Linked DNA regions of Homo sapiens: region 2 is linked to region 1. The links come from fine-mapping of genetic effects on gene expression. Tissue or cell type: whole blood. Region 1 holds a variant in brackets; the other region holds the start of a gene. All regions are shown on one strand. Distances are from middle to middle.

Region 1 (2,760 bases):
TTCATTATTTTAGCTTTATTGTATATTTAATATCTGATAAGGCAAAATTCCTCCTTATTCATCTTCACATTTTTTTTCTCAGCTATTCTTGCCTATGTATTTCTTCTGAGTAAACTTTAGAAGAACTGTGGCATGCTTAACAACAACAAAGCAGCAAATCTCCTTGGACTTTTAATTGGATTGTGTTCAACCTACAGGTCAACTCTGCAGCACATGCAGCCTTTCCATTTGGGAACATGGCATGATTTCCCATTGAATTAATTATTTCATGGGTTTCTAAAAAAGTCTACAAAGTTATAAGAGATAGTTTCCATTTCTAACACTGGTGCAGTAGATTTGAGGTGTTTTTGTTATTGTTGCTATCTCTGCTTCCCCATCCACCCACCCCCATTATATCTTCTAATTGGTTATTGCTAGTTGATGAGGAAGCTATTGAATTTTGCATCCAGCCACTTTATTAAATTTGCCTGTTCTAATAGCTTTTCAATTTATTCTTGTGGGCTCTCTGGAGCTTTTTGCATAAACCAATTCAAATGAATAATTAACTCTCCAGCTGAATCAGTGACCTTCCCTAAATCAGGCCTCTTGTGAATTTAGGGAATTTGGCTGAAGGAGAATGCCGTGTAAATGCGGTGTGCAAAGGGGCCTTGGAAAATCCTGGTAGCCTCAAGAATGCTCATATTCTTTAATTCATTATTTCACTCAAGCGATGAATCATTTCACTCAAAATCTTTCACTAAAAAAAGGGATCAGAGCCAGGTGCAGTGGTGCACGCCTGTAATTCCAGCTACTCAGGAGGCTTAGGCAGGAGGATTGCTTGAGTCTAGGAGCTCAAGACCAGCCTAGCAAGACCTAGTGAGACATAGTCTCTAAAAATATGAGAAAAAAAAATGATCAGAACTGTGAATGAAAGAATTTAGGTATCAGGCCATGTATTAACGTTTATAATAATGAAAATTGGAAACAATCGGATGATTAACATTAGCGGATTTCGGCTGGGTGCATGGCTCACATCTGTATTCCCAGCACTTTGGGAGGCCAAAGTGGGAGGATCACTTGAGGTCAGGAGTTTGAGACCAGCCTGGCCAACATGGTGAAAC[C/T]CTGTCTCTACTAAAAATACAAAAATAAGCTGGGTGTGGCAGTGGGAACCTGTAACCCCAGCTACTTGGAAGGCTGAGGCAGGAGAATTGCTTGAACCCAGGAGGCGGAGGCTGCAGTGAGCCGAGATGACACCACTGCACTCCAGCCTGGGCAACAAAGTGAGACTCTGTCTCAAAAAACAAACAAACAAAAAAACCAACCAAACAAAAAAAAAACCATTAGCAGATTGTTTGAGTAAATGTTCACGTGGTTTTCACCTCAGCCTCCCGATCCCCTTACTCTGCTGACTCCATCACAGGCCCAGATGTCTCCCTCAGACTCCAGCCTCCAGCCTCCCAAACCCTGCCCACTGTGGAGGCTCTGACTGTTGCAGAGGCTGTCCAACCACTACACTCCCAGTCAGAGCTCAGCCTCTTGGTGGAGGTCAGGTTCCTCAACCTTGGGCAGGTTCTTGGCAAATGCTGTGAGGTGCATTTAAGTGCAGGAGATGACTGGGGAGGACTCGGGAGAAGCATCCGAAGGGAGTGAGGAAAGCAGACCAGGCAGAGGGAGAACTTGAACTTCGACACACGGAGCCATCAGCTGGTCCCACAGCTCTAGAGCTGAGATGATCCTTCAGAATTGCTCCAGAGAGACTCTGGGAGCTGGGCTCTGGTATGCCCGCACCCACCAGTCACTGGATGGCGACTCTCCTTGGAGAGGGGATGTGCCTTTAGGGGAGGACAGTTCCTGGAGAGGGACCCAGGTATGAGCAGCCAATACGCCCTCAGGGAACCAAATGCCTCCATTCTGAAGGGGCACCTGGGTGGCACCTCACAGCATTCACTGCACCCACTGTGGTGGGTTAAAATGGCCACACGTTCTTTGCTACTCCTTCCATTCAGAGTTGGAGGCTGTTTCTCCTTTTCTTAAATATGGACTGGATCAGTGACTTCTTGTACCCAATAGAACGTGGCAGAGTGACTTTGTGTCATTTCTGAGATTGGGACTTGGAAGATATAGAGCATCTGCCTTTGATTCTTAGAATACACCCTCTGGGAGGCCACCCCATTGAAGAAGTTCAGCTATCCTAAGACCACCATGCTGTGAGGAAGCCCAAGCTAGCCACTTGGAGAGAGAGGGGCCATGTGGAGGAGCACCAAGGTGCTGAGCATGTGAGGGACACATGGACCTTCCAGACCAGCCATTGGCTGGGCACAGTCAAGAGAATGGCCCCAGGTAAAGTTGTGTGGAGCAAAACTGCCCTGCTGAGCCCTGACCATTTCTTGGCCCACACAATCATGAGAAATAATGAATTGTTATTTAAGGCCACATTTTAGGGAGGTTTTTAATGCAGGAATACAGGGAAATGAAACACTTTCTGGCTCACTCTTTTTCCTACATCATCTGTCCCAGTTTGTGGCACCATGATCCACAATCATCCACACTAGACACTTCGGTTGTAGGAGACTTCTCCGCTCTCACCTCTATGCCATGTCACTGGCCAAGCTCTGCCGATTCTTGGGGAGGGTGTAAAATGTTACTCCTAAATAATTCCTGAGACCGCCCCACCTCGACCTGCCTGTTGCCAGCACATTTGCCCAGATTCTCAATCTTCTTGCCCTGGACAGGTGCCATGGTTTCCACACCAGCCATCTCAAACTCCAGCCTTGGCCAGAG
Region 2 (2,609 bases), 57 kb before region 1:
GATGGTGCCACTGCACCCCAAGTTGGGTGACAGAGCAAGAGTCTGCTAAAAAAAAAATTATTTAAAAAATGGCCTTGGGTACTTTTTTTTGAGCTAGTTGTTCTGCAAGGTGTAGCTCTCTTGCACCTATTCAGGTCCTGAGCCCAGTGGCATGGCAAACACTCTCTGTGTTCCAGAACCAGGAGCACCCAGATTTCCTAGCCAATTAAGAGCTCTCAGCTTTGGGTCTGTCTGATGAGCTGACTTGAGACAAAGATCTTCTGTTTCTAGGAGGACATGGGTTCTAGGTCTCTGTGTATAAGTTGGATGTTATGTTTGCTTTGAGTGTGTTTGATGTGGTCCTGCAGTGTGTGTGCTGTGATTTATTTGTAAGAATTTTTGGACTAATAGTCTTCCCAGCCAGGTGTGGTGGTTCACACCTATAATCCTAGCACTTTAGGAGGCTAAGGGGGGCTAATTGAGCTCAGGAGTTTGAGACCAGCCTGGGCAACATGGTGAAACCCTGTCTCTGCAAAAAATACAAAAATTAGCCGGGTGTGGTGGTGCACCTGTAGTTCCAGCTACTCAGGAGGCTGAGGCAGGAGGACTGCTTGAACCTGGGAGGTCGAGGCTGCAGTAAGCCGAGATCGTGCCAGTGCACTCCGGCCTGGTTGATAAAGTGAGGCCCTGTCAAAAAAAAAAATCTGTTTCCACCATTAGACTGTAATCTCTATGAGGGCAGGGACCCTGTCATTTCTTTGCTCACCAGTTTTATCCCTAATGCTTGGCTCATAGTTAGAGCTCAGTATATATTTATTGAAATAATAATTGTGTACTATCTGTGTCTATGTGTATTTTAGTAGCTACAATTTGTTTGTGAGGCTGAGGTGACAGACAGCTGGTGTTCTCCGAAAATGAGAATCGTCCGAATGATGTATATGATATATCTATGTCTACGTGTTAGTGTTCCGGTTGTGTTTTATGCACGTAATCTGGGAATTTGTGGAGGCACTTCAGAAAATATCAAACACCCACAGTATATCAGATCCTGAGTTACGCCCGGGGCAAAAACGACTTCTTCTGCCTGTCCTGCTAACTTTGGGGAGGATCTGGAGGTGAGATTTTTAAACAGGGTAGAAATTATTTATTTTTATTTTGTATATTAAGAAAAAAAATTACTTTTTGGAGGCCTTCCGGCAAAAACCAGAAAGCCTGCTAGGCAAATTCTAAAAAAGCTGTAACACTAGGGTAGAAATTATTGATGCCAAGTTTACACAAAAGTGGCGAGGGCGATGCTAGGGCAGGGGGCGGAGCCCCGCTCCAGAAGCTACGCCCCGGGGCGCCATTATTTTTTCATTCCGGAACCTTTTATCCCCCTCCCGACCATGTTTTCCTCCGGTCTCTTTTGGGCAACGAGCACTTCCGGAATCTCTCGGCGTGTGAGCTTGGTTGTCCTACCAAAGCCAGCGTTTCGGCTCGCGTGCGCCGGCCTAGTTTGCTCGCGTCCTCACGCGCTTTGGGTTTCCCGGTCTCATGGCCGGCCTGACCTTATTTGTGGGCCGCCTCCCGCCCTCGGCCCGCAGTGAGCAGCTGGAGGAACTGTTCAGTCAGGTGGGGCCGGTGAAGCAGTGCTTCGTGGTGACTGAAAAAGGTAGGGGCGGGGCGGTCGAGGATAGGGCTGGGGTTTCCTGCGATCGAGGGCACCTTCCCAAACTTCAGGGAGCCGTATCATTCTTTACCCTCCCCGAAGAGAAGGGACAGGGAACTGAGTTTCTTTTCCAAACTGATTCTGCTTTAGATGCGTTCATAGGAGTCAGTTTATGAAGGGCAAAGCATTCCCTTACGTTTCTATAGCGCTTTCTGTTGATTATGCGCGCTAAAAATGAAAATAGTTAACTAGAGCATCAGTAAGACTTATTGAGAGTCACCTGATTGGCAGGTACAGTGATCAGTTTGATACAGGTTATCTCATTTAATTTTCTCAGCAATCTTACCGGATGGAGAGTCTTAATGTCATTTTACAGACAGGAATCCGGGATTTAGGGGAATTTAGTAACTTTAAGTTTGTACGGCTGTTAAGTAGTGGACCCCCGATTTGATCCTCAGACCTGGACATCTTAGCCAGGATGCTATCCACTTGTTCATTCATTTATTCAGCAAATACTTAATACCTACTGTGTGCCAGGAAGTGTTGTAGGTCCTGGGGATGCAGCAGTGCACAACACCAAACCAAAAAAATCTTTGATTTTATGTCTTCAAGGTGGGGAAGAGAGCCAATAAACGAGCCAATAAACAAGCCAACCGTGAAAATGATGTCAAATGCTAAGGAGAAAAATAAGCCAGGGAAAGGGGTTAGGAAGTCTATGTGCATGTGTATAGTGGGGAGAGGGGGTGAAGAGTGGCAATATAGATAGGGTGGCCAGAGAAGGACGGACTGAGGTGAGAGAGTGAACACATGCCTCTCCGGAGGAAGAACAATTCAGGAAGAGAAAACAGCAAGCTCAAAGGTACTGAAACAGAGGTGTTTTTGGTATATTGGAGGAGTAGTAAGGAGGACAGGGTGACTGGATTGAAGTGAGTAAAGGGAAGAGAATTAGGAGATGAGATCTAGAGTAGCAGATCATGTAAGA

What was found. PIP is the estimated chance that this variant, and not a neighbour inherited with it, causes the effect.
Region 2: it holds the start of RBM28, and the variant in region 1 is fine-mapped to the expression of RBM28 in whole blood (TOPMed, PIP above 0.99).

Annotation. Positions count from the first base shown.
Region 1 is chr7:128,285,571-128,288,330 of GRCh38, reverse strand. No RefSeq gene overlaps it. Among named protein-coding and RNA genes, the nearest start is that of LEP, 46 kb to the right of the region's middle. The variant C/T (reference allele first, on the strand shown) is at 1,101.
Region 2 is chr7:128,342,697-128,345,305 of GRCh38, reverse strand. It overlaps RBM28 (RNA binding motif protein 28), which reads left to right and starts at 1,398. Exons shown (of 19, transcript NM_018077.3): 1 at 1,398-1,630. The coding sequence starts at 1,513. It also overlaps the pseudogene RNU7-27P. RefSeq lists an enhancer at 1,258-1,457.